2 linked regions of the Homo sapiens genome follow. The protein of the gene in region 1 interacts with the protein of each later gene in a pairwise test. Each region holds a gene or a part of one and is shown in the gene's direction. Other genes may lie near its edges.

Region 1 (3,822 bases):
CCACTGCTCACACAGTGAGTCACCAAATCTTTGGCTGTTCCAGGCCAAGTTTCAGTGGCCAAGTGGCTCCTAGGGGACGGGAAGGGAACATGTGTGGTTAACAGCAGGCTCACAGCTGCGCCCTGTGTCAGCTCCAACCCAACAGCCTGGCCAGTTCCCAACAGCATTGTGAAAGAATAGATCTGCTGCCCCTCTCCTCCCCTGCCCGCCCCTCTCTCCTTAGGGCTTCTGAGGTTTCCCACGTCTTCACCTTGCAGGCAGCTCCCCCTACTCCAGCCCCCTCAAAGCGCTCTCGTCCTGGAAGCAGACTTCAGCTACCTTTATCACCAGTTTAACACCCCTGCCAGCTGCAGGTGCTGCGACTCCATGCTTCTCAATGGTGCTCTAATTCTTAAAGAGTTGCAGGTTTCTGGGAAAGAATGACTCTCTGGTGGAGGAGTTTCTGCACAGTTTTTTGTTTTATGAGCCTGTGTATTTTTGTTGAGGAATGGCCAAGTTGTTCTTTCCTTTCGAATTACACAATGGCCTATTTTGCAGAAATCTGGCCCTACCTACTGGTCACCAATGGCTTTGAGCAGCACAGAAATCAACTGGTCGGCTCGGGGCGGTGGCTCACGCGTGTAATCCCGGCGCTTTGGGAGGTCGAGGTAGGCGGATCACGAGGTCAGGAGATTGAAACCATCTTGGCCCACATGGTGAAACCCCGTCTATACTAAAAAAAATACAAAAGTTAGCTGGGTGTGGTGGCGCGCGCCTGTAATTCCAGCTACTCTGGAGAATTGCTTGAACCCAGGAGGCGGAGATTGCAGTGACCTTAGATTGCGCCACTGCACTCCAGCCTGGGCGACAGAGCGAGACTCTGTCTCAAAAAAAAAAAAAATCAACTGGTCATCATGCCCCGGTCTGATGGTTTAGAATCAGCATTGACGCTTTTACTTTTTGCCTTCTAAAATCATTCTTTTTTTTCTTTTTCTTTTTTGAGATAGAGTCTCGCTCTGTCACCCAGGCTGGAGTGCAATGGTGCCATCTTGGCTCACTGTAACCTCTGCCTCCTGGGTTCAAGCGATTCTCCTGCCTCAGCCTCCCGAGCAACTGTGATTACAGGTGTGTGCTACCATGCTCAGCTAATTTTTGTATTTCTAATAGACAGGGTGTTACCATGTTGGCCAGGCTGGTCATGAACTCCCGACTTCAGGTGATGCAACTGCCTCGGCCTTCCAGAGTGCTGGGATTACAGGCGTGAGCCACTGCGCCCGGCTATTCTTTTTTTCTTTTCTTTTTTTTGTACACTCAAGCTGATGCAAATTGTAGATCTTGGCTTCAATCCATCTGTGAATTCTTTGTGCCAACTGCCAAGTTGGCATTGCTATCCTTTCCATCAACAAAAACAAGGCATTTGGAACCTTAACGAAGATGGCATTCTGGGAGGCACATTATAAAAGGAGCGTCTCGGAGGTGTCATGCACTCGGGAGCTTATTATTGAAAACACAAACCAACAAGGACATCACCGTTTCAAAATACAAATGTGAAGTGGATGCATTTGAGGAGAATGGGGGGTTCTTATTGTCAAGGATCTACCCTTAGCTGCTTCTCTTTTTTTTTTTTTTTTTTTTTTGAGTTGGAGTCTTGCCGTGTTGCCCAGGCTGGAGTGCAGTGGTGCGATCTCAGCTCACTGCAACCTCTGCCTCCCGGGTTCAAGCAATTCTCCCGCCTCAGCCTCCCAAGTAGCTGGGATTACAGGCGCCTGCCACCATGCCCAGCTAGTTTTTGTATTTCTAGTAGAGACGGGGTTTCGCCATGTTGGCCAGGCTGGTCTCAAACTCCTGACCTCAAGCGATCTGCCGCCTCAGCCTCCCAAAGTGCTGGGATTACAGGCATGAGCTACTGCACCCGGCCTCTTTTTTTTTTTGAGACAGGGTCTTGCTCTGTCACCCAGGCTGCAGTGCAGTGGCGCAAGTACAGCTCATTGCAGCCTCAACTCCCAGGGTCGAGCGATCCTCCCACCTCAGCCTCCTGAGTAGCTGAGACTATAGGCACAGGCCACCAAGCCTGGCTAATTTTTAAAGTTTTTTTGTAGAGACAAGGTTTCTCCATGTCCCCCAGGCTGATCTCGAACTCCTGGGCTCAAGCGATTCTCTTGACTCAGCCTTCTGAGTATCTGGGACTATAGGCACATGCCACCATGCCCAGCTAATTTTTGCTTTTTTGTAGAGACGGGGTTTCACCATGTTGCCCAAGCTGGTCTCAAACTCCTGGACTCAGGCGATCCGCCCACCTCGGACTCCCGAAACTGTTAGGATTGCAGACATGAGCTACCGTGCCCAGCCTCCTCAGCTTCTCTATCCATCTTCATCTCTCAGGATTTGGGGAGGGGATTTGTAATAATTGCCACAAGGTGCTTTGAGCATCTTGCATTGCTATTTTGATTTTGATGAACTCTGAGTCCTTCCTATAGATTGGAAAAGCCTGGTGTCTGTTCTTTGCTGCAGGCCTGTCTCAGCTCCCTTTCCAGTGTTCACTCATTTTGTGTCTTAGGAGTTCTGCTGGCTGCCCCCGCCTCTGTTCGTGTACTGATGAGAAGGCATCTGGCCCCTAGGAAGAGCCCCAGGCCCGCAGAAGGGAACCTGGATGTCCCCCTTGCTCTGAGTTCCATACTGGGGCAGCCTTCCTGACATCCAGCTTCCTTGCCTCCCAGGACGAATGGTTTTCTTTGCCCCCCTCAAACCCCGCAGGACTCCAGGTCCCTAAGGTCATGGGCATCAACTGCTCCACACTGCTGTGGGCAAGGGCCATTCAAAGTCTTGCATCTTGCAGATTCAAGGACATTAGGAAACTCTCCCATCAGACAACTTGGGCTGCCGGCAGCTGGGTTCTCAGTCCAGGAACCAAACGTTGTCTTTGACTCTGCTCTGTTCAGCCTGCCTCTAGTGCCTGCCTGTTCTCGGCATTGGTCCACACAACTCCACCCTCGTCCACGCCTCCTCCACACCTCTTTGGATGCAAGCTTCCTGATCTCAAGCCTCTTTTTATTTTAAACTAATAGATTCCCCCCTCCCCCAGAAGATGATGTTTGTTTGTTTTGGAGAGAGAGTCTCCCTCTGTCACCCAGGCTGGAGTGCAGTGGCACAATCTTGGCTCACTGCCACCTCTGCCTCCCGGGTTCAAGTGATTCTCGTGCCTCAGCCTCCTGAGTAGCTGGGATTACAGGCGTGCGCCACCATGCCTGGCTAATTTTTGTATTTTTAAATTAGCGATGGGGTTTTGCCATATTGACCAGGCTGGTCGTGAACTCTTGACCTCAGGTGATCCACCCGCCTTGGCCTCCCTAAGTGCTAGGATTACTGGCGTGAGCCACCATGCCCGGCCGCCCCTTTCTTTTTAGTATTAAATAATCCTCCATTATTTAGGTGTATCACAGTTTATTTATTTATTCAGCTGTTGGAGAACATCTCGGTTGCTTCTGAGTGTTGGCAGTTATGAGTAAAGCTGCTCTCAACATCCGTGTGCAGTTTCTGCGTGGCGGACTTCATTGTTTAGAGCAGTTTTAGGTTTACAGAAAAATGAGCAGAAGGTACAGAGTGCTGTATGTGAGGAGATAGGGGGCGGGGGGCCACTGCTTCCCTGTGGGGCTTCCTGTCTCATGGATTGAGAGTCCTTAAGGAGGCCTGGACGCCATTCTCTGTACCTCTGTTCCTGCTGTGTGAAGAAGGAACCGTGTGACACCGACAGGTGAACCTTCCAGGGTCCCTGGGTCTTAGGGACACAACCAAGGGACAGAAGTGGACCAGAAGTCACTGCCCTGGGCAAGCTCCTGGCCATTA
Region 2 (3,822 bases), on another chromosome or scaffold:
TATTTCATTTTAAAAATTTTCTTGAATCTTCCCAATAATATAGTGAGTTAAATCCAGTGAAGTCTCTTGTGAAAGTTGTCACTTTCTCTATTTTCCAGTCTCTATGAAAGGTGGGAGCCTGTTATTTTGGTGTATTTATGATAAGTCATGTAATCTACAGATTTTATGAGTCAGTTTTGGCTCTTGGTAGACGACCCTATGTCCACGTCCTATTACCCTAAACTCTCCTATTTTTTCAGGATTTGATTAATCAAACTCAACAAATATTTGAAAGTTTGCTATTTGAAACACAGCAATCCATATTATTTAATTCACATGAAGTAAAAAAGCTTATGGAAAATTGCCCTTAAAAGAAGGAGACTTTAAAAGCAGAGAATGTAATTTGGTGGAAAGAGCCCAGGTTTTAGATTCAAATAACCAGGGATTTAGCCTTCACTTCTTTGAGCCTTAGTATCATTATCTGTAAAACTGAAGACAATTTAAAAATGTTAAAGGATTAAAAGAAATTATGTCTATAAAATCTTTCATATATTGGTACTCAGTATGGAAGTGTTAGGTATTGTATTAGACTTAATAAATCAAAATAGGTACAAGAAACATCATGTAAACAATAAGGGCTTGAAGGGGTTTTAATTTCGTGCCAGTATTTGTCTTAACTAATTGGTCCTTATTAATGTTTAGGTTGTTCTCCATGTATTTCGTGTGTTATCCTTTCCTGACTAGTTTGTTTCACCAACCTGCTTACAAACATATTTGAGCACCCACTATGTGCTAGGCTGTGTGATATTTTTGGATACAAAGATTAATTAAACGTGGCCCCTTTCCACAAGGAGTTCACATATAAGCTTCTTCAAGTTATTTTTCTTTTATCTAGTGAGTACTGGTCATTCTAAGCTTTGAAGTCATAGCTAAATACAACATGGGAGTAATAGGCAATGATTTCCTTAGGGTTTAGCAATAGACCAATTGATCTCAAAATTTAGGAGCCTCTACAACTAATGTTCAAGCAAGCTGCTAAGCAGAGACTCAGAGATAAGGGGAAGAAAAGCAGGAAGTGGCTCTGTTGGTGGATGATTTAACAACCTCCACCATAGTATCAGAACAACAACAGACTGGAGGCTTAACCCTCTTTGTGAACCGACCTCAACACCCAATTCCTTCTCATTGAAATAAAGAAAATGTGTACATACATCTGTACTATGCCTTTTCCCCTCTCACTTGTAGGCTACCCTGCGTAATCATTGTAATGTAAGATATTCTAAAACGCTGGTGTAGGGGATGAACAAAAGGGAAGGAGAGTGAGATCCCTGCCCTTCTTCCGGGTCCACATTTCCCATGCACTAGCAATATTTTAGAATTTTTTCCTGATACTGCTGCAGTTCCATCTTTGATTACAATCTGTTTATAATATAGTACCTTGACCAAAACCCCAGAATCCTCAGTTTGGATGAAGAATAAATACATTTAAGTTTGAGAAAGAAAACCATCTCCAATATCAACTTGTTAAAATCACTAGGGCAATTTCTAAATCTAGCAGTTAGATTTGCTCCGATCTGGAAAGATTTTGTATGATTTATAAGATCAGAGTGAAGACTTCAAACCCGTTCTAGAAATATGTGATGAATAGATAGTTAATATATCTAAGTATGGAAATGAAAGACATTGACATTAGGAATGAATTAACTTGAAGGTAAGCTCAGCACTCCTGTCAGCCACTACATTTAACATTCTTGTCATTAAATCTTTGACCGGGCTCTTAATAAGTAAAAATGTATGCTAATGTAAGATTTGAACCTATTTCTTTCTCAATTTATTGCCACTCAGCACTACCATACAGTAATTTACCTGTGACCTATGAGTTTAGTATGATCAAAATTCACTAGATAAAAGCAAAGGAAAACTAGTGTCTTTTATTAGGGCACTAAGGCATAGACATGCTATAAAGCAATACAATGACCTATATAATTTACAAACTATTATGATTAACTGAATGCCGTGTTGTGAATTGGAGTATTAAATACTCCAATTTACTCCAGTGTACATTGGAGTATTAAATACTCCAATGTACTCTGATGTACTCCAATGTACTCCAATGTACATTGGAGTATTAAATACTCCAATTTACTCCAATGTACATTGGAGTAAAAGGCTTCATTGTGAATTGGAATACTAACATTTTCCCTACCTACTGTTTGGGTGAGGCTTGACATTTGATTTTCCCCACACTCTCTTATGATTATTATTGTTATTAGTATTTCTAAATAGATAAATTGAGGAGAAAGGAGCATCTTTGCTTTTCATACATCTAATAGTTCATAGAAAAATAGGTGTTTACTCATATTTTATGTAATTTTAGGATATTTACATAATTTTGTTGCCTGAAATTTAAAACATATCAAGAGCTCAAATGTTCTATCTGCCAGGAAAAAACAAACAAACAAAAAACCCTACTGTCTTATTTTCTTCTGGTAGGAATAAACTGCCCTGATTGTAATTTCTATGCTAGTTTATCAGTAAATAATATTGGCAATTTTGACTCAAGCTATTGGAGTCCATGTTTTCTTCATCTACTCAAGTCCAGTAACTTCAATTTTCACTGATGAAGAAACATTTTAAACTAAATTACTTTCAGTAAATTCAATGTCTAATGACCCACCTATGTTTATATAAATGATGGATTTAGTTGAAAGTTACATTTATTTATCATTTTGAGTACTCAAAACCAAACAATAGAGAAATCCTTCCCACACTGGAATTGTCTCCAAAATGTAATATTTTGAAAAGATGATTTTATGTGTCAATGTATGCATATATGTATGTTTCCCCTTTTATTTATGGGAAACAACTGATATGGTGCCTACGTAATCATAGCCAAATATTCAGGAAGAAAGGATACATACTTGAGAATAGAGGGGGAGGCACAAATGAGATGAGAAGGAGAGTCAAGTAAAAAGCAGGAAGGCTGGGCTCAGAAAACAAGACTATTAGTTAAAAACTCATTATATCTTAAAGTATAATATCATTCAATACGTTATTATGTAACTCTGCTATATTATGTAACCACTTCCAGTTTTGTGAATTCATGTGACCTAATCTTAAGAAGGTAATTTTTTCCCATTAATTCAGTAATTTCATTGACTGAACATCTGGGTAATGCAAGTGGGGTTTCGTAAGGTAGAATTCCATTAAATAAATGTTAATTCCAGGAAGGAAAAAATGTGAAGCCCTTTTCTTGACCTAACATAGGTTATGTTAAATAGTTTAAAATTCTCGTAGGTGATACTGAAATTCAATCACATTGATAAAGAATCTATTCCCAAGTTTTCTTTCTAAATGCAACTATTTCGAGTACATCTTATATAAAATCAACTGTATCTTTGTGATGTAAAGACCTTTATGTCTTGTTTCAAAATAACAGCAGTGAATAAATGTGTATGATAAGCTTTTTATTTTTATTGAGCAACAGGACATTGCAATGACTTAATATCTAAAATATTTATTAAGACTTTGGGGGAGTAACAAGTGAGCTTGGAAAAGCTTGTCTGCTCATTGCCACTGAGATTATTTTTAAGAGAATGTGGATTTATGGCTTAGTAGGATCACTGAATGTAGTTACTCAGTGAGGTGGCTGATTGCAACCAAAATCAACTTTGGCACTTGGTGTGCTGGCCTCTGACTGTTGCCCCCAAGAGAGTTCTAGTCTGGTTAGATTTTAGGGAAAAAGAAATAGGTTATGTTCCTGAAAGTAGAGTTCAGAGGATACAGTCTAAAATGTTATGTTAGAGAGAGGCAGCAACAAAGGAAAGAGAGAAAAGTCTTTCG

Evidence for each region.
Region 2: the proteins of TBC1D16 (region 1) and RGS17 interact in a two-hybrid assay, tested with the Homo sapiens proteins (one large-scale study listed by BioGRID).

Annotation. Positions count from the first base shown.
Region 1 is NC_000017.11:80,025,686-80,029,507, reverse strand, and holds part of TBC1D16 (TBC1 domain family member 16), read left to right. Parts: intron 1-3,403; exon of another isoform or gene 3,404-3,697; intron 3,698-3,822. UniProt on the Homo sapiens protein: May act as a GTPase-activating protein for Rab family protein(s).
Region 2 is NC_000006.12:153,121,253-153,125,074, reverse strand, and holds part of RGS17 (regulator of G-protein signaling 17), read left to right. Parts: intron 1-3,822. UniProt on the Homo sapiens protein: Regulates G protein-coupled receptor signaling cascades, including signaling via muscarinic acetylcholine receptor CHRM2 and dopamine receptor DRD2.